Homo sapiens: one gene and its partners. The protein of the gene in region 1 interacts with the protein of each later gene in a pairwise test. Each region holds a gene or a part of one and is shown in the gene's direction. Other genes may lie near its edges.

Region 1 (7,896 bases):
AGACGGAGGGCAAGGCAAGAGGCTGGTGAGCAGGCGGTTGTGGTCATGGTCCAGATGAAGGAGGAAGTGGTCTGTGGCTGTGCAGGTGGAGAAGAGGGCTAGTCTGATAGTCTGATAGTTTGTGTCTCATGCCCCCACCTCCAGGAAGCCTTCACCGCTTTCCTTTCCCTACCTCCATTCTGCTGGTGGTCTTGGAGCTCTGGGCCAGAATCTGAAACTCTAAACTCAGAGACAGTCATTGTTGGAAGGTACCTTAGGCTCGGAGGACGTTTGGCATAGTGGGAAAACTGAGGCCCAGAGAGAGGGAGTGCCGTACCTGAGGCCACACAGCGAGTGTGAGAGGGTACCTGAACTGGGGCTGGAACCCCAGGCCGTTGCTTCTCTGTGGTGCTTGGTTCTTCCAGCCTTGCTCCCCTTCCAGCAGGGAGGAGGCTCCAGCAGTGCTGACTGCCAAGAGCTAGGAAAACACATTTTTTCCCTGTCCTCACAGAGCGAGCAGAATGGCTCAGCAGCCAGAAAGGAGCCCATGCCAGCGGGTGGGCCTTCTACAGGATGTCTCTGGAGTGGACTGGTGGGGCCAGGGAGGGGGACGTTGGAGGGTTGTGGCTGCTGACTGGACAAGGCAGTTGTCAGTCCCTCAAGAGTCACCTCTCTCCTTATGCCTCCAGAAGACGTCATGAACCTGCAGACCCTGGAGGTCAGCTCTGCTGGCTTCCAAGGGAAGAAGCCAGGGAGAGGTGGTGGTGGCCGACATAGAAGACAGAGGACCCCTGGGTTCCAGTCCGCCACGGCTACCAAACAGTGGCTTGGTTGCCTCAGGTGCTGAACAGGGGATCGGATCAGCTACTATTTCTCAGGCCCAGGGTCAGCCAGCCTGGCAAAGGCAGAGGACCCAGGCCCCTTGGCAGCCCCTGGCCTGGGGTTGGCAGCGGAAAGCCTGAGGTTACCAGAAAGTTCCCCCTTCTTGTGACTTTCCCCCTGTGATTGCCTGACTGCTGAGCTAGGACATTCCTGGGCAAACGTGGGTGCCTCAGCTGACATCCAGGATGCGGTTGAGGGGGCTGAGGCTCGGACAGGAGGGCATGGAGGAGTGGGGGAAGAGCAGGTTCAAAACCTTCCTAGCACCTGAGGGTATTTACAATCACAGCCAGCTTCCGCTATTATCAAGGATAGGGAATGGCTGATGGTTCCATCTCTCAGGCCTGGTCTGGAGGCAGTGTTGAGGATTCTAGGCTGTGTCCAAGCTCAGGAGAAAACAGTTCTGTGCTGAGAAAGACTCAGGGGCTGTGGCCTGCCTCACTGGGAATTGGTGCTGTGTGTGGTTAGTGATGTCTCTGTTGCTTGTGGATAGTGGGATGATGGTGAGATGAGGTGATCTTTCTTGCCTATGCCTCCTTTTTTTTTTTTTTTTTTTTTGATGGAGTCTCGCTCTGTTGCCCAGGCTGGAGTCCAGTGGCTTGTTCTCAGCTCACTGAAACCTCCACCTCCCGGGTTCATGCAATTCTTCTGCCTCAGCCTCCCAAGTAGCTGGGACTATAGGTGTGCGCCACCACACCTGGCTAATTTTTGCATTTTTTTTTTTCTTTAGTAGAGACAGGATTTCACCATGTTGGCCAGGCCGTTCTTGAACTCCTGGCCTCAGATGATCTGCCCACCTTGGCCTCCCAAAGTGCTGGGATTACAGGCGTGAGCCACCACGCCTGGCCTTGCCTAAGCCTTTATATTTTACACACCAAGATTATTGTGATTATTCCCACTTAGCAAGGAATCCAGGACTCAGGAAAAATGACTTGTGCATGAGGCCAGACTGTGCCTCTGAGGTTCTGTATCAGCCGCAACACCCAAAGGGCAGTTGATTAACTTGCGTGGGGAGAGGCTTCCCTTCTCCCATTGGGTCTTTCTGTGTAGCTCAGGTGGCCAAGCATCACTGCACGTGCCAGCTCCCCAAACGGCTGGTAAGGGGGCCTGGATACTTAACTGTAACTTGCAAATCGTATCCCTAGCGGGCCCAACACAAATCCTGGAGAATCAGAGCTGGGGTGGCCTTGGAAACTGGCAAGTCCAGCTTCATCTTCACAGGGCTAGGGAAACAGGGCCCAGGGAGGTCGCCCTGCCAGGGCCACACAGGGAGGAGGTGTGTGGCTCCATGTGGCCTCAGGCCTGAATTCTATTATTATTATTATTATTATTTTTGAGATGGAGTCTTGCTCTGTCACCCAGGCTGGAGTGCAGTCGCGTAATCTCGGCTCACTGCAACCTCTGCCTCCCAGGTTCTAAGCGATTCTCCTGCCTCAGCCTCCTGAGTAGTTGGGACTACAGGTGTGTGCCACCAGGCCCAGCTAATTTTTTGTATTTTTAGTACAGACAGGGTTTCACTGTGTTAGCCATGATGGTCTCAGTCTCCTGACCTCATGATCCGCCCACCTCGGCCTCCCAAAGTGCTGGGATTACAGGCATGAGCCACCTTGCTTGGCCATCTTTTTTTTTTTTTTTTTTTTTTTTTTTTTTTTTTTGAGACAGAGTCTCGCTCTGTCACCCAGGCTGGAGTGCAGTGGCGCGATCTCAGCTCACTGCAAGCTCCATCTCCGGGTTCACGCCATTCTCCTGCCTCAGCCTCCCCAGTAGCTGGGACTACAGGCGCCCACCACCACACCCGGCTAATTTTTTTTTTAAGAGGCGGGGTCTTGCTTTGTCACCCAGGGAGTGCAGTGGCGGGATCACAGCTCACTGCCGCCTTGAATTCCTGGGCTCAATGGTTCCTCCTGCCTCAGCCTCCTGAGTAGCTGGGGCTATAGGTGTGCACCACTGCACCCGGCTAATCTTTTTATTTTTTGGAGATGGAGTCTAGCCATCTTGCCCAGGTTGGTCTTGAACTCTCAGGCCTGAATTCTACCCCATGCTGGCTGTATGAGCCTGGACTACTCTATTGTCCTCTCTGGGCATTACCTCAGGGTTGGGCGAACCAGGGAGGTGACGGTGTGAAGGGACCAGGTTTCAGTCCTGGGCCTTTGCAGCTATTCATTCACACCTATTGTGTGACTTCAGGCAAGTGCTGCCCCTCTCTGGGTCTCTACCTCCCCTTGGGTAAAGGGAGGAGGCAGGACCTGATGGCCTCTAAGGGCCTTTCCTGCAGTTCCCTGTGTGACCCCAGCCAGCTGGGAGATGCTAAATCAGAGCGAGACCCCAGTGCTGGCTACAGGCCTGACCCCTCCTGGACAGACAGCAATTCTAACCTCCCAGCTGCTCACTGACCTCTACAGTGTATACCACTTGATTCCACCAAAACCCTGCGAGGCAGGTATTGTTCCGATCCTTTAGATGGGAAAGTGGAGACCCAGAGAGATGGAGTGGCTCACCCCAGGTCACACAGCCTGAGAAAACAGAGATGCGACTTAAACCCAAGCTTGACTCCCAATCCAGTGCTCCTTTCCCTGTTTCCCACACCCCACCTTTGGGCCCAAAGTCACGTGGATGGGATCCCCTCTGCTCTCTTCCCATTCGCCTAGCATCTGTACTGTCTCTGCCAACAGGCCCAAGGAAGCAGCTGGAGAGGAGGAAGAATTAGAGACAGGGCCAGGAGGTACTGAACTACGTTTCGGCTTGGAACCCGGCTTGGTGACAAGCTGGGTGATGGCGTCAGAGACTCTGACCATCCACCCTTCCCCAGTGCCTGCTCCCTGCCAGGTCTTGAGATGGGTGGCCTCAAGCACCCAGAGCTGACTCAGCCTCTCCCTGTCTGGTGGAGAGACAGCAAGGAAATACAACCCATTACACACAGGGGTGGGGGTCCCTAACAAGTCCTAGGGATCAGGGAGGGCTTCCTGGAGGAGGAGATGTCTGCACCCAGGGCCGAAGGATGAGTAGGAGTCTGCCAAACAAAGTAGAGGGGAGTGAGGGGAGAGAAATATCATGGGGTGGGAGGTGGCTCAGAGGCAAGAAAGCGCGGGTGGGAGGAAGTGAAAGAAATTCTGTGTGGCTGGAGCACAGAGTGGAGGTGGCAGTGGTGGGAAATGGGCGTGGGGCTGGACACACAGGGCCTGGGGTGCTGGGAGGGTGGGTCTGGACTCCATCCTTAGGATAGTAGGGAACCATGGAAGGTTTTTTTTTTGTTTGCTTGTTTGTTTTTGTGTTTGTTTTTGAGATGGAGTATCACTCTGTCGCCCAGGCTGGAGTGCAGTGTCGCGATCTCGGCTCACTGCATGCTTCACCTCCCGGGTTCACGCCATTCTCCTGCCTCAGCCTCCTGATAGCTGGGACTACAGGTGCCTGCCACCACACCCGGCTAATTTTTTGTATTTTTTAGTAGAGACGGGGTTTCACCATGTTAGCCAGGATGGTCTCAATCTCCTTACCTTGTGATCCGCCCGCCTCAGCCTCCTAAAGTGCTGGGATTATAGGCATGAGCCACCTTGCCCAGCCGAACCATGGAAGGCTTTAATCTGGCTGGTGGCATGGTCAGATTCGCGTGGTGCAAAGATTGTCCAGCTGCTGTGTGGGAATGAGCTGAGACCAGCAGGGAGGTGTGCTGGGACCTCCCCAGGTGTGTGTAGGGTGGTGAGGGTGACCACTTAAGAGGCCTGCATTGGGTTGGGCGTGGTGGCTCACACCTGTAATCCCGGCACTTCAGGAGGCCGAGGCAGGTGGATCACCTGAGGTTAGGAGTTCGAGACCAGCCTGACCAATATGGTGAAACTCTGTCTCTACTAAAAATACAAAAATTAGCTGGGCGTGGTGGTAGGCGCCTGTAGTCCCAGCTATTCAGGAGGCTGAGGCAGAGCTAATCGCTTGAACCCAGGAGGCGGAGGTTGCAGTGAGCTGAGATCCTGTCACTGCACTCCAGCCTGGGCGACAGAGCGAGACTCCATCTCAAAAAAAAAAAAAAAAAAAAAAGGGAAAAAAAAAAGGCCTGCATTGAAAGGTAGGATCGGTGAGGTTGACATGTAAACGTCTCCAGATAGTATCTGAAAGGTCAGGGTAGCCAGCAGATCTCATATGACTTTTCCAGGTAGGATGGGAGTGCACAGAGGCCCCCAAGGAGAGCTAGGTGGGCAGCCAGGGCCTGAGCCCCCTAGGATTTGGAGTGCTAGGCAGGGAAACTGAGGCCAGAGCCCAGGCTAAGCCGGCATGTTCAGCAGTGGGGGGTCGCAGCTCAGGGGTCACCCCATGAAGCCACTGGTCTTCACCGTGGATCCGCACAGGGGTCTAAAGCTGCCTGGGTCCTGACCTGGCACTCTGGGTCCACCCAGCTACCCCCAGCGAAACCTGGGTGACCCCTAAGACTCTCCTGCTTAAGGGCCACAGTGGCTGCCCCTGTCAGGGGATCTCTGCAAGCGCCAACTTCCTTCTGTCCCACTCCTTCCTTCCCTGTGAGCTGCCAGACCCCCTGACTGTGTGGGCTGGGAGGAGCTGGGGAGTTTCCTGAGAAGCCCTGGACTGTCCCCACCTTGGCCTGAGTCACACTGAGAACTCAGCAAGGATTCCTTGAGTATCTGCGAGGTGCCAGGCGCGGTTCTAGGCATGGGGGAGGCCGCGGTGAATCAGGTATAAGTTCTGCCCTCATGGAGCTGGCATTCTAATCGGGGGGTTGGGAGGGACAGACACTGAACAAATAACCACCATATATGTGAGTGATGACAATTACACATGGGGAAACCTGAGGTGGGGAAGGGACACAGGGAGTGTGTGTGTGTGTGTGTGTGTGTGTGTGTGTGTGTGTCCGTGTGTGTATCAGGGGTTGCAAATTCTAAACTGAGTGAACATGAGATTTGAAGAGACCTCAGGAGGTGATGGAGCAAACTTTGTGGATATCTAGGGAACAAGGATGCCAACAGAGGCCATGCGTCGTGGCTCATGCCTATAATCCCAACACTTTGGGAGGCGGAGGCAGGCGGATCGCTTGAGCCAAGGAGTTCAAGACCAGCCTGGGCAACATGATGAAACTCTGTCTGTACAAAAAGTACAAAAATTGGCCAGGTGTGGTGGCATGCACCTATAGTTCCAGCTACTAGGGAGGCTGAGGTAGGAGGACCACTTGAGCCTGGGAGTTTGAGGCTGCAATGAGCTGTGATCGTGTCACTGCACTCCAGCCTGTAACGGAGTGAGTGAGACCCTGTATAAAAAACAAAAACAAAAACAAAAACGCCAGCAGAGGGACCAGCCAGTGCAAAGGCCCTGGAGAGGAGCGTGCATCCTGTGTTGAGGAAGGGCGGGTGTGGCTGAGGCAGGGGAAACAAAAGGAAGCCAAGTAGGGCTGAGGTTGGAGAAGGGATGCTGGGGAGCACTTTCTTTTTTTTTTTTTTTTCAGACGGAGTCTCACTCTCGCCCAGGCTGGAGTGCAGTGGCACAATCTTGGCTCACTGCAACCTCCGCCTCCCGGGTTCAAGCGATTCTTTTGTCTCAGCCTCCCAAGTAGCTGGGACTACAGGCACGTGCCACCACGCCCGGCTAATTTTCGTATTTTTAGTAGAGACGGGGTTTCACCATGTTGGCCAGGCTGGTCTCGATCTCCTGACCTCATGATCCACCCGCCTTGGCCTCCCAAAGTGCTGGGATTACAGGCGTGAGCCACCGCGCCCGGCCACTGGGGATCACTTTCTGCAGCACTTTGTGGGCCATGGTGACAACTCTGGCTTTACTCCAGTGAGCCGTGGGAAGGTCCTGAGAGAGGTGTGACATGAGCTGACTTAACACAGCTACCTGTGTCACCCAGGGGGAAAGTGAGGCACAGAAAGAGTGGCTGACCTATCAGAACCACACAACTAGAGAGCGAGACCACCCCCAAAAGGCCCCAGGTGTGTCTGGCACCAAGGTCCATGTGCTTTCCATTTCTGCACCTTGTCCCTGGGAGACACCCCGGTCCTGCCAGAATGTGTCAGAGGCTGAGCCAACCCGTGAGGTCAACCCTGTAGACAGCTCAAGGAACCAGGACTTGGATCTGGCTTTTGCCCTCTGCTGTCCACAAAACTGGGTGATGCTCTTTCCGATACGGTACGTGTTTATAGGATGCTACAGCTCAGATCACAAAGCATCTTCCTTTGTTTTCTTTTTATTTATTTATTTTTTTTGAGATGGAGTCTCACTCTGTCACCCAGGCTCCCAGGCTGGAGTGCAGTGGCGCAATCTCGGCTCACTGTAACCTCCACCTCCCAGGTTTAAGCAATTCTCCTGCCTCAGCCTCTCAAATAGCTGGGACTACAGGCATGCACCACCACGCCTGGGCTAATTTTTGTGTTTTTGGTAGAGACAGGGTTTTGCCATGTTGGCCAGGCTGGTCTTGAACTCCTGAACTGAGGTGATCTGCCCGTCTCAGCCTCCTAAAGTGCTGGGATTACAGGCGTGAGCCACCGCGCCCAGCCTATCTTCCTTTATTTTCCTTGGCTTCTTATCACTGCCCCCTCCCCTTGGAGACAGATGAGAAAACTCAGGTTCTCATGGCGGAGAACCTGAGAGGATTGGCAAAGTAGATCCTATCAGCTAGAGACAGAGAGGACTGCTGCTTTAAAGGGGACTTTGGGAGATGGTCCCCTTCTCCAGCCCAGAGCAATGACCACTGACCCTCCACGAGTTTTATTCACCTTTTTCTCCCCATTACCAAGTACATGTTTGGCAAAGAGCTCAATAAATAGTTGTTGAAGGAGCATGTGGCTGTCAGGCCTGTGGGAGGGAGGATTAGGAGATGAGAGGCCCTCATTGGTCTAGGGATGGCTGCCCCATCTGCCTAGGGCATGCTGAGTTAGTATGGGGCAGCCCCCAGGAGGTTGGGAAAACTTTCCCAAAACAGAGGTCTAGATGAAGGAGGCCTGGGGAGAGAGGGGACTGGCTGATGTTGTATCTTACGGGGTGCTGGATGGGCTTTGTGTAAAGGCATTTACTGGTGCACATATGCTGTGTGTACTT
Region 2 (5,336 bases), on another chromosome or scaffold:
TTGACTGTAAAAATATTTTTTGAGACGAGATCTCATTCTGTTAGGCTGGAGTGTGGCAGCGCTGTCACGACTCACTGCAGCCTCAACCTCCTGGACTCAGGCAGTCCTCCTGCCTCACCATCCCGGAGTAGCTGGGACCACAGGTGCACACCACCACACCCAGCTAATTTAATTTGTAGAAACGGTCTTGTTGTGTTGCCCAAGCTGGTCTCCAACTCCTGGGCTCAGGCGATCTGCCTGCTTTGGCCTCCCAAAGTGCTGGGATTACAAGCGTGAGCCACCACACCTGGCCAAAATTATATAATTGTGTAACCAACTGGGAGGGCTGGCTATGGAGGGGCAAAATAAGCTGAAACTAACAATTAGCCAAAAATTACATGGAAGTTGTTTATGGTAGGAATAGAAATACTGATTAGCTTTGGACTTTTAAGTATGCATGTTGAAATACTGAGTACCATAATCAGAGAAATAGGTCAGCTGCAGTGGCTCACGTCTGTAATCCCAGCACTTTGGGAGGCCTAGGTGGGTGGATCACTTGCGGTCAAAAGTTCGAGACCAACTTGGCCAACATGGTGAAACCCTGTCTCTACTAAAAATACAAAAATTAGCCAGACGTGGTGGTGCACAGCTGTAATCCCAGCTACTCCGGAGGCTAAGGCAGGAGAATCCTTTGAACCTGGGAGGCAGAGGGTGTAGTGAGCCGAGATTGCACCACTGCACTCCATTCTGGGCCAGAGTGAGATCCGTCTCAAAATATAATAAAAAGTAGAACTTCCAACCAAGGAACATAATAGCATAAAAATCCAGTGTGGAAATAATACCTGGTGATCCTTTAAAGATAAAGCCTAAAGCCCCAACCAGTTCAGTCTTTTATGTGAAAGATGCACTTTTTGTGTTTCTCTACAGAGACATCTGAATGGGACAGATACTTCTTTCTCTCTGGAAGACTTATTCCAGTTGCTTTCATCACAGCCTGAAAATTCACTGGAGGTAATTGGAACTTTGGCTTTTATCCTCGCAGGAACATATCTGCACTGACCTTTTGGTGAACAAATACAACTCCTTTACTTGGATGACACAGCAGTTTAAAGTAATGCTTATTTTTACAGAAGCACTTCAGCTTAGAATTAACCAAATATGTATAGCATTCCTCTTTCCAAATAATCCCAAAGGTATAATCAAATTTAGACTAGTCATGGAAAACAGCGTGGAGATTTCTCAAAAAACTAAAAGAATTATCAGGTATTTATCCAAAGGAAAGGAAATCAGTGTATCAAAGGGACACCTGCACCCCCATGTTTATTGCAGCAATATTCACAATAGCCTTGTAGTTTTAGCGCTTAGAGGCATTTAAACAGCCTCTCTCCTCCAGACTACTTCACTGTAGTTTATTATCCCTGACCCTCCACAATGTGATTACCAACCGCTAGGATGAGTTGCATCTTATTATAAAGTAGCAAATTACAAGATTGTAACATTAGACTTTTTAAGAAAATCCAGTCAGCTTTTATACTAATCCATCTTAATTTCTAGGTTACTCAGAATTCCAGGTATTCTGATTTGGACTCACATCTCGTATTGTATTGCCTGTATTTAACTAGGAAGTTACTGCCAACAGCATCTATCTCTATTAAATGTAGAGGAATTGACAAAAGAGGGGAAAGAAAGTTGTTAGGTAATAGAACTGCTTCAGAAATAGGGCTATTCATGTTTGAAGTGTTTCTCCTTCGTTTTTCAGGGCATCTCATTGGGAGATATTCCTCTTCCAGGCAGTATCAGTGATGGCATGAATTCTTCAGCACATTATCATGTAAACTTCAGCCAGGCTATAAGTCAGGATGTGAATCTTCATGAGGCCATCTTGCTTTGTCCCAACAATACATTTAGAAGAGATCCAACAGCAAGGACTTCACAGTCACAAGAACCATTTCTGCAGTTAAATTCTCATACCACCAATCCTGAGCAAACCCTTCCTGGAACTAATTTGACAGGATTTCTTTCACCGGTTGACAATCATATGAGGAATCTAACAAGCCAAGACCTACTGTATGACCTTGACATAAATATATTTGATGAGATAAACTTAATGTCATTGGCCACAGAAGACAACTTTGATCCAATCGATGTTTCTCAGCTTTTTGATGAACCAGATTCTGATTCTGGCCTTTCTTTAGATTCAAGTCACAATAATACCTCTGTCATCAAGTCTAATTCCTCTCACTCTGTGTGTGATGAAGGTGCTATAGGTTATTGCACTGACCATGAATCTAGTTCCCATCATGACTTAGAAGGTGCTGTAGGTGGCTACTACCCAGAACCCAGTAAGCTTTGTCACTTGGATCAAAGTGATTCTGATTTCCATGGAGATCTTACATTTCAACACGTATTTCATAACCACACTTACCACTTACAGCCAACTGCACCAGAATCTACTTCTGAACCTTTTCCGTGGCCTGGGAAGTCACAGAAGATAAGGAGTAGATACCTTGAAGACACAGATAGAAACTTGAGCCGTGATGAACAGCGTGCTAAAGCTTTGCATATCCCTTTTTCTGTAGATGAAATTGTCGGCATGCCTGTTGATTCTTTCAATAGCATGTTAAGTAGATATTATCTGACAGACCTACAAGTCTCACTTATCCGTGACATCAGACGAAGAGGGAAAAATAAAGTTGCTGCGCAGAACTGTCGTAAACGCAAATTGGACATAATTTTGAATTTAGAAGATGATGTATGTAACTTGCAAGCAAAGAAGGAAACTCTTAAGAGAGAGCAAGCACAATGTAACAAAGCTATTAACATAATGAAACAGAAACTGCATGACCTTTATCATGATATTTTTAGTAGATTAAGAGATGACCAAGGTAGGCCAGTCAATCCCAACCACTATGCTCTCCAGTGTACCCATGATGGAAGTATCTTGATAGTACCCAAAGAACTGGTGGCCTCAGGCCACAAAAAGGAAACCCAAAAGGGAAAGAGAAAGTGAGAAGAAACTGAAGATGGACTCTATTATGTGAAGTAGTAATGTTCAGAAACTGATTATTTGGATCAGAAACCATTGAAACTGCTTCAAGAATTGTATCTTTAAGTACTGCTACTTGAATAACTCAGTTAACGCTGTTTTGAAGCTTACATGGACAAATGTTTAGGACTTCAAGATCACACTTGTGGGCAATCTGGGGGAGCCACAACTTTTCATGAAGTGCATTGTATACAAAATTCATAGTTATGTCCAAAGAATAGGTTAACATGAAAACCCAGTAAGACTTTCCATCTTGGCAGCCATCCTTTTTAAGAGTAAGTTGGTTACTTCAAAAAGAGCAAACACTGGGGATCAAATTATTTTAAGAGGTATTTCAGTTTTAAATGCAAAATAGCCTTATTTTCATTTAGTTTGTTAGCACTATAGTGAGCTTTTCAAACACTATTTTAATCTTTATATTTAACTTATAAATTTTGCTTTCTATGGAAATAAATTTTGTATTTGTATTAAAAATTAACTTTTCCCTTTTATACAGAATCTGAACCAAATTTACCTTACTTTCCTTCCAAAATATCCACATTCAGGAATATAGGTGAATAACAAATAAGGCAGCATAGCAAACTGCTCAGACTCAAGCCAAATTGAGGTCAACATAGTATGCCAAATCCATAGTAAGGCAAATCCACCCCCCTACCCCAATACTTAACACACAGAATACTATGTGATATAGAATGCACTGAAGACCTACGGTCACTGGTAGTTTGAGCCACAGGCCTTCCTCATGTAACCAGAGACAGAATGGGCTACTTGCAAAAACGTAACTCCTTGTGTGTATATTAAATCCATAAAATCTCTGGCAGTAAAGCCAGCCTGAAGGGATGGCCTCACCATCTTAGAATACTGAGATCTCACCAGAACACTGTAAGCCATATAAACAGTAGGGAAAGAGTCAGCAACAGTGAAACCATCTGTTTAAAATGGGCAAAAGCGATTAAGGGAAAAAAAACAGGTGAATTTGAAAATAAACCAGGGTAAGGTAAATTCTAGAAATAATAGCATTTGAAATGAAAACCTCACTTAAGTTCACTAGAACAGTAAACAGGAGATTGCTGAATTTTTTGAAGACAGCAATGACCTCACCTAGATGACTCAAGTTTGGGGAACATCAAGATTTTGACGGGTACTATAATGCTTAATATGTCCAAATTTTCAAAATGAAGTTTCTCAGATATTATTTCTGCCATAGGAGCTACAGTGTAGAGTATCACATAAGTATCTTGGGCTAGAGAAATGCAGTTTATATATACCGTTGGATTTTTATAATAAAGTTTCCCAAGACCTGTTATTTTGCCAGAAATGCTTCTAGTATGCTTCTAGATAAAATTGCCCCTTCAGTGACTCATGGTGTTCAAATGATCATTTTAGTCTGTTGCTTTTTACAAGGGAGTATTTCAAATGTCTTAAGCTTTTGATAATTATAATTTAAGAACACACATAAAACATTTCAGTAGGAAATCCTACTAAGTACACTCAAAAGAGTGCCTGCTTATCAGATAGCATTCTTTTCAAACCTCTAAAATAAAAGACAGTGGAGAGCAGAATCGGTAATCATGGTGACTCTTGTTACCCATGCTGAAGTGCAGTGGCCCCAATAAAAGATCCAGCCTCAAACTCCTGGACTGCCTCAGCCTCCCGAGCTGCTCAGATTATGGACCGCCATGCCTGGCCTGAAGTTTAAACTCTAAAAACCCTTAAATATAGCACACACAGATCTAGTAACTGCAAACTGAATATATTTAAAGATGGTAGTGTCTGTACTGAACTTTATTCCCCATACATAATGCAGCATACCATTTACCTAGCTTCTACCTTGGATTAAATATTGGGTAACCTAGACAACTCAAGTGTATGAGATGTGCTTAGACCACGTGCAAATACACGTTTCATACAAGGGGGCTAGAGCATCCACATTTTGGTATTGTGGAGGTTCCTGAAACTGATGGGCCCCTCTCCCATCAAGGGACTTTTAATCGGCGCATTAAGCAGCCAGCGTCACAAGCTCTAATTGGCTATGGGCTGGCTTCCTGACATAACCCTGCCTCCATCTTAACATGCTGGATTCAAGGTATATAAACTGCAACTGCTTTTCTGACAGTCCAGTTTTAGAGGCAGAAGGGAATTCCACATTCGGCTTCCAGTGCAAACCAACTAGATTACAAAGCCAATGCCCGAAAGCTGACCATTGCCTAGGACCCTCCACATTACCTACCTAGTTGAGCAGTCTTGATTGCATCATCTAACGTCTTAATCAGAATGAGGAAGACAAGAACAAAGACAACCCAAGTGGGTT
Region 3 (8,317 bases), on another chromosome or scaffold:
AATCTGGTATCTGAGCAGCACCTCTTTCACTGATTTGGCCCCTGTCCCACTGAGTTCTTCTGCTTCAAAACTGGCTATTTCCTTTTCATTTTTCTGCCTTTATCTTAATTTTACACTTTGTAACATTTCAAACCAGAGGCTACACCTCATCTTTGATTTCAGTTATCAGGTAAACATGAGGGTGTGTTTACTCATCTGCTCCAGGAAGTTCTCATTGTCTTCTAATAAAATATGTTCATTTTCCATAAAACTTTCCAACCTGGAGGCAGGGGTGCTATGACTTTAATCCATAGTCACATCTCAGGGTACAGGTGTCAAAGAGCAGTTGTTCAAGTGGGAGACTTGTGTTGATCTGGGTAATCCCCCACCTTTAAAGCCTAGTTGTTTTGCCCCACCCCCCCTCCAATATTTTCTTGACTTAGTGAGTGAATACTTAAAGACAAAAGGAGCTAAGGCAATGAAGATGGAGGGAATGAAGTTCTGGGAAGGCTGGAGGGGTATGCAGATTTGTAGGGGTTACAGATGTCATGCTGCATCTGTGGAAATGAGGATTCAAAACCAAAGGTGGGTAGGGAATAAATGTGGAAGTGTGGATCTTTCCTGAGGTTAGGGAGGAGGACAGGGGACAAGGGTTACACTGACTACACATCAAAGTTTTTTCAGGATATGTATTATGTCTTACTGTCCAAATATTATGCTATGGTGTTCCTTATAGCCATGAACATGTCACCTATCTGTATGATTTAGCTCCCTCATTTTTGAGAGTCAGGCAAGACAACCTGCTATTAGAGGAGAAAATGATGGTGTTTGTATCTAGGTTTTATTAAAAATCATTCCCTAACTATGGCTTATAGTTATTTAAATTGTTTTCAGAGTTAATGATAAGATTTTATTTTGGTAATAAAATCAGTATGATGGCCAGAAAGAAGATATGAATGTTTGGAAAAATTGGAAATATCATTTTTGAAAGAAATGTGACAATGCACATATATAACATCTTGCGAATGGTATTGTATATCACCAAACCTGCTCACAGCAGGAAAACTAGCCATCACTTCTCACAGTCAATGAGAAGTATAAATCAAGGACATAGCAGTAAGCTGTGATACCCAAGCTTCACGGATAAATTCTCCTAAAGAATAATGCACTAAAAACAAAACTACATGACAAAAAAAAGCACTAATTGCAAATCACTGTGAAACAGTAGCACAAAATCTTTATATTGTGCTACTAGTGACAGCAACAGAAGACAGTCAAACGCCTAGGCAGATAGAGGCAGGTCCCCGGTGAAACCCCACCTCCAAGCTGAAGACAGTTTAAAGCCTGAAAGCCAAACTACAAGTTAAATTTTCAGACTAGATTGAGAACTTGTCTTCCTGTTTGGCACGCTTTCCTCTGATCTCCACCCTTCACCTATTTTACGTATACTTACCCTTTCTAATTGGTTTTCTACACTGTCGTGCCTGCCTTTGAGTGGTGTCTTTGCTTTAACCTTTTTTTGCAAACTCACAAACCAATCAGCATGCACTCCCCATTCTGAGTGCATAAAAGCCCCAGGCTCAGCCACATGAGAGGGGATTTTCCCACTTTCGGGTAGGGGAACTGCTCCCAGCATTCGCTCTTTGCTGAGAGCTTTCCTTTTGCTTAATCAATTCCACTCCACTCACTTTCCGGTGTCTGTGTGCCTAGTTTTTCCTGGTTGTGAGACAAGAACTTGGACCTAGCTGAGCTAAGGAGCAGAAAGACTGCCAAGACTAGGCTACTTGTCCCAGTTTCAAACTATTATCAATACTAATTGAAAGCAATCAGCTGGGAGCGGTGGCTCATGCCTGTAGTCCCAGCACTCTGGGAGGCCAAGGCAGGTGGATCATTTGAGGTCAGGAGTTTGAGATCAGCCTGGCCAACATGGTGAAACCTTGTCTCTACTAAAAATACAAAAATTAGCTGGGCTTGGTGGTGGGTGCCTGAAATTCCAGCTACTCAGGAGGCTGGGGCAGGAGAATCACTTGAACCCGGGAGGCAGAGGTTGCAGTGAGACAAAATCATGCCACTGCACTCCAAGCCTGCGTGACAGAGAGAGACACCATCTCAAAAAAAAAAAAAAAAAAAGCGATCAGAATTTTTTTTCTTGGTCCCCAAATCTCAACATTTTTTTTTCCCAATAGGAATTAGGTAGAAGCACTATGTCTCATTATAACCTCAAGATAATTTTTAAAAATCTGTTTTAGTAATAGATTTTAATAAACATATGAGTTAGTATAAAAGATCTTGAGGCTGATGTTCTTCAAAGTTGACCATGATGTAGCCACTTTTCTTGATTCCGAGTATTGCAGGATTACTCAAGGTTTTGTTGGCCTGGCAGCTAATAATGTTAATGCTAACTCTGGAAGTCCAGAAGACATAGGTCAGAACATACAGTTGTTTGTGAATATTTACACTGACATACAGGTTTTAAAAGAAATACATTCTAAGTGGTTTTGGTTCAAAGCAAGAGAATACTGAAAACAAAAAGTGCCACATCTTTCACTGAGCATTTTACTGCATTCATTCCTTCATTCAACCTACTATCTGTTTCCACTCCCATTCCTTCTCAATACTAGAATTAGCTTTTAAAAATAACCACATGACTTAGAAACCTCTACTCACTTATTGCAGACCACGGGATGAAGTCCAAACTCCAGGTGCTGTGCATGAGGCCCTTCTCATACTGACTCGGTTTCATTTCATTCTCCAGTTTCATTTTTCGTCCTGTCCCTACTACATGCCATAAGCTTGAAGACCACATGCTTCAGTATTAAAAATGCAGACCCTTAGGTCCTACTCAGATCTACAAAATTAGCATCTTTTGGGGGTGGGACCCAGGAATCTGCATTTTTTTTTTTTTTTTTTTTTTTGAGATAGAGTTTTGCTCTGTCGCCAGGCTGGAGTGCAGTGGCGCGATCTCAGCTCACTGCAACCTCCACCGCCCAGGTTCAAGCGATTCCCCTGTGTCAGCCTCCTGAGCGGCTGGGACTACAGGCGCACACCATCATGCCTGGCTAATTTTTTGTATTTTAGTAGAAACGGGGTTTCACCATGTTGGGGTTTAGTAGAAACGGGGTTTCACCATGTCGATCTCCTGACCTCGTGATCCGCCCGCCTTGGCCTTTGAAAGTGCTGGGATTACAGGCATGAGCCACTGCTCCCGGCCGGAATCTGCATTTTAACAAGCAAACCAAATATTCTTCCCCATAATGAAGCTTGAGAGTCACTCACTTGACTTGATACTCTTAGCACATCTGTATACCTTTGTGAGAACTTCTCAAATAATTAAACCTATCAGGGCATACATCATAATTTTCAGGCTAGAAAATGTCACTGCTATTATCTAAAGAAGCAAGAGTTCCTCCCAAAGAGGAGGGTCTGATCTTCCCCTAGAAAAAACTGCACAGGTGTAGAAAAAACTGCATAGGTGTAGAAAAAAGACACTGCAATTCCACTGGCTCAAGGTGGAAGGAGAATAAAGCCTCGGACACTCCCATGTGTCTGCAAGAACTTCAATCCTTCTTTCATGGTGTATTTCCAAGTGTCCTTTCCTCCTGTTTCACTAAATATCTGCACTCTCACCATGAACTGAGGCAGCCTGGGATGCGAGGTACCTCCTACCTCTGGACCCTATCTAGACTGCTGGGTTCCACTCTTCCCAATCAAGACCCAATGCAAATGTCACCTGCTCCAGGAAGCCTCCCCTAATTCTAGGTCATAATGTATCACTTCACCCCTCGCACTCTCATCCAATTTCACTTGTGTGATTTTCTCATGTATTTTGGATGTAGCTCAAACGTCCCCAAGTCCCACAGCCTGTGGGTGCAAATGCAGTCATGTTAGTCGTAATACCTGAATTATTATCTTGGTATCCTTTTTGCCCCGGGAACTCCAGGGCTGTGTTCTTGTTGCTGGCTCCAAAGCTAACAATAAAATCCCTTCACACAAATCGTCCTTTGGCTTCAGACCTCAAGGTCCGTGTCATCTCCGCAGGAACCCTCGTGGGGTTGGCGTGCCCAGTCCCCTCCGCTGCGCGTGCATCCCGCTCCGCTGACAGCCAGTGCTTTGGTTCTCCAGAGGTGTTAAATGGCTTGGGAACATAATTTCAAAACGGACAGTTGGATAAACACCAGAATAAGCACCAGAAGATGACAGCGGAACCAAGGCTCGAGATGGGCCGGCTGACACCACTGGGCGCTGAACCTGGCTGGAAGCTTCCTGGCAGCGACAGCGAAAAGGGAACACCTGTCGTGGGCGCCCTTGTTTCACTGTCAGTAAGAAGTAGAGCAACTGCTAGACGCGCTCCACAAAACCCTGGACGCACTTCATACACACCCCCACCCCAGCAAGCTCAAGTACCCTGTGAACCTGGACGCCCACCACCCCCAGGGCAGGCAGCGAGGAGCTCTTCAAGGGGTAAAGCGACCCCTGTGGGGCCAGCGCCCGTCCTCTCTCCTGCTGTTCGCGGGCACCCGGGCACGCGGCGACTCGGCTGAATTAGGGCGTCCTGCAGCTCCCGAGGCGAGGAGGCGCTTGGCCTTTCCGTTCCGCCCTCAGAAGGGAGAGGAGAGGTGGTCCTCGAGTGGGAGTCAGTTCAGGATGCGGGCTGTGCCACGCGCGGAGGTCCGGGGACCCCACCGCCGCCTCCTCGAGGCCCGCCCCGCCCCTTACGACCCGTCCCTGCAACCCCCCGCGTGGGCTTCCGGCCGCGGCGACCCCTGCCCCGCGCTATTGCGCGCGCTCGTTCGCTGACAGAGGCTTCGAGGGCGGCAGGGCGGGGCTTCGGCGCCGGGGGCGGGGCCTTCAGCGGGCGGGCGGGGTTTTGGCGCCGCGAGGTGGCGGCAGCAGAGCGGCGCAGAAGGGAGGGGGCGGCTGGCCGCGCGGAAGGAGTGAGTCACCTGACCGCTGCCCTCGCCGCCCGCCGGGCGCTCTCGCTTCAGTCAGTCGGGCCGCGCCGCGCCTCAGCTCTGGTGAGTGGCTCGGCCGTCCCGCCGGCCCTTCTCCGGGAGGGTTGGCGCGGTCAGGGCCGCGGGCCTGTGAGGGGAGGCCGGCGGACAGGTCCAGTGAAGGCGCGGGCGGGCCGGGGGCGGCTCTTTCTGGGCTGGGCGGGGCGCGGGGGGCACGTATCGGGGCCCGCGGGGGGCGCCGGCGGCCGGGATCCTGGAAGTGGCCGCGACGCCGGAAGGGGCGTCCCGTCGGCGGCCGAACCCCCTGCACTGCCGGAGCTGTTGTTTACCCGCGCGCGCCGTACTTTACCCGGGGCGGGCGGGGGCTGGGGGCCGCGGGGTCCCTGCCCCACCCCCCTCCCTGCCCTCGGGCGCCAGCCCGGCCCCTCGCCCGCGGCCCGCCCGGGCTGTGACACATCAGCACCGCCCTCGCGGCTGGGGCCCCGTATTGTCCTCCGCCGCCTCCCACCGCATGCCCAGCCTCGCGTCTACTCAGCCCGGTGGCTGTCGCGCGTGGAATCGCGTAAGAAAAGCCGAGTTTGTGGCTGGGGAGAGAAGGCCACCGTGCTGAGCTGGATTTAGCGAAGACTGGTTTTGGGGACCGGAGAGCCCAGGACTCCCTTTGTTGGAGTTTTGCCCACGCGTTGTAATTAAGCCTCGCACAATATGGTGAGAGTGGGCGTTGATTCTGGAGACACCAGCTTTGTGCTCGTGTAATGTAACACGAGTGCCGTTGCTTTCTCATTCTTACACGGCAGTTTCATGTCATTGAGTAGAATTGTGCGGAATGCTTTTATGGAGTGAGGCTTCTGCGTTAAACTTGTGCTGATTCCAGGTAAAGTGTAGTAGTAATTGTGAAAGAACGTGTATGAGGAAAACGAGCTACAATGTCATGCTTGGAGGAACAAAGAATGTTTTGTAGGATGCTTTGCTTTTTGGAGAATTGTGTAGGGGTAGGGACTGTTACCCATGGATGATGCTATGGGAATTTGATCATGTATTTGAACACCCTTTACATCAGAGGGTCTGCATTGAATGCAGTTCAGAAGGATAAAGGGTGGAAATCCCAGATGTGTTAGTGGCAGAGCACTTGAGCGCTTCACATAGTCAAGCAGAGAAATGGGAAGAGGTCGGCTTGCTTCTTCCTGGTCTTTGGGTAGTGGTGCAAGGGCTGGGCTGGGCTTGAAGGCACTTGCCACTTCTGCCTTTGGACATCTTGAAGAAGCTTAGGGAAGAAAGGCTCCCGGTGAGTCAGCTTGGAGTAGGGTGACTTTGGCGTAGTGATTCTTGTATTGTTGTTTAACCTATGTTTCTGTCAAGTGGTTTACTGTTGTTCGGTATGTTGGTTGGTTAACAAGGTAGGATGACTCTCTAAAAAGTTGGGTTGCTGAGTCATTCGCCCCAGCTTGAGAGGTAATTAGAAACAGCTGGTGCAAATACTCTCATCACATGCCTCCACTATAAAAGGCCAAAGAGCGCTCTAGAGAGGTTGCTTCAGAAGGCTGAAGGGGACCCAGCTGGGGTTGTTTTGATACAGGTTATCAGTGGGTGAAGTGGAAGAGCACTCTTAGGCAGTGGCCAATAGCACTGAGGCGGGTTTAAAGACGGAGCCTCGTGACCTGCTGTCTGAGAATAAATTTGCGCTGGAGAGAGCTAAAACTGGGGAAGAAATTTGCAGCTAGGGGTAACCCAATAAAAAATATTGTAACAAAAATATTTACTACTCTTACTGGACTTAGTTTCCTTTTTGTGGTTTCTGTTACGTGGTCTATAAGTTTCAAGCAGTGAGCTTAATTTGTGCGTCATAAAAATTTGGTTATGAGTACACAGAAGGGACTTGCTCTGTTTCTCATGGCCCTTGGCTTTTCATGCATACACAAGAAGTTTCAGGAGTCAGAGGAGGGTAAGCACCATATGGGTGGAATTAATAGGTCTCATTGGGTTAAGTCTCGAAAGAGCTGTTTAATAAATAGCCAACCGTAAATACCTGTCTCATTGTCTTGATTATATGACACCACTGCCTTTACACCTGGTGTCATTGCTTCTTGCTTTAAAAAGGAGCACACAACCCAAATATTTATATGAGTCCTCATTGCAAACAAAGTTTAGGAATGGGAAATGTAGAGCTGGGAATTTGGCCCTTTGGTGAAAAAAATGATGATTCCTATTAATGGTAGTTCATTTAAAATATTCTGTATTAGGAAAAACGATTTATTTTGTTCCTTTAAGTCTGGGACTAGAGGAGATTAGAAATCATGAATTTTGTAAGTATTAGGGCCTCCAAGGTGGGGTGCAAGGAGGTTCATTTGGAAGGAATATATTAAAACTTTTAAAAACTTTAATATAAGAAAGACATTAAGCTTAAAGATGCAGACTAACAATCGTGTATTCATATTATATAATGCGCGTGCATGTCCTCCACCCCTTTGTTGCTGGGGGAACATAGCCTGTTAACCACTGTCAGTAACATTCTTTCAACAACCGGAATGCTTTTTCTTTTAACTTACGGTTTCCTCCTAAGAGTTCTTTCAGACTGTTAATATTCCATTTAAGTTTTATTTTATAGGTAGTTCTATTGTCTGTATGTTTTACTTTAGAAGCTTGAGTGTAAATTTCTTGTTACATTGTTGATACTGGGGATGGAAATACAAAAAATACAGAATTTCATTTGATAACCTGTATTTTGAATTTGGAGACAAGCCCAGCGGTTGGTTTAATGTATGTGATCTGAAGTGCAGTGATGTGTAAAAGGGTGCAGTGGAAATACTTGAAGATAATCTACACATTGGAGTGTAATATGTATAGCATATGTAAAAATTAGTTTGTACTGTTACTCCTTGAAGTCTGTTTTTTTTTGTTTGTTTTTTGCCAAGCTTATGTTCTCTTAAGATTAATAAGACGACATATTCAGTAAATCCCTTGGGAAGTGGCATTTATTCAGAATATCAACCTCCTACTAGTGCTGGGGGCGGGTGGCGGCGGTGAGGGTGGTTAGTATTTACCATTCAGTTAAATCTCATGTGCCATGTGCCTTCTACACCCCTGTACTGTGAGAGGTGATGCTCAGAATAACAGTTGCAAAGCCCGTTAAAATTACCACTTGTCAGATTTTCTCTTCATAGTGCTGATCTCTCCATGACTTACGTTTTAGGAATCACCACCTCTCTTCTAATTTTCTGACTAATGTTCTGTTAATGAGAGAATTGTCTTAACCCTAAAACCTGCATTCCCTGAGCATTCTAGACAGAGGGTTTATTTTATGTGGTGGAACGATGATTTTTGAGATTGTTTTGATTTAAAATATATGTCAAATGAGGTAATGTACCGATGGCCAAGGTATGGGTAAT

Evidence for each region.
Region 2: the proteins of MAFF (region 1) and NFE2L3 interact in binary tests that used the Homo sapiens proteins (3 or more experiments, as listed by UniProt).
Region 3: the proteins of MAFF (region 1) and BACH1 interact in binary tests that used the Homo sapiens proteins (3 or more experiments, as listed by UniProt).

What each region holds. Positions count from the first base shown.
Region 1 is NC_000022.11:38,204,946-38,212,841, forward strand, and holds part of MAFF (transcription factor MafF), read left to right. Parts: intron 1-7,896. UniProt on the Homo sapiens protein: Since they lack a putative transactivation domain, the small Mafs behave as transcriptional repressors when they dimerize among themselves.
Region 2 is NC_000007.14:26,182,795-26,188,130, forward strand, and holds the end of NFE2L3 (nuclear factor erythroid 2-related factor 3), read left to right. Parts: intron 1-906; coding exon 907-990; intron 991-1,738; coding exon 1,739-2,989; 3' UTR 2,990-4,343; downstream 4,344-5,336. UniProt on the Homo sapiens protein: Activates erythroid-specific, globin gene expression.
Region 3 is NC_000021.9:29,293,960-29,302,276, forward strand, and holds the start of BACH1 (transcription regulator protein BACH1), read left to right. Parts: upstream 1-4,962; 5' UTR 4,963-4,994; intron 4,995-5,415; exon of another isoform or gene 5,416-5,639; intron 5,640-8,317. UniProt on the Homo sapiens protein: Transcriptional regulator that acts as a repressor or activator, depending on the context. Binds to NF-E2 DNA binding sites. Plays important roles in coordinating transcription activation and repression by MAFK.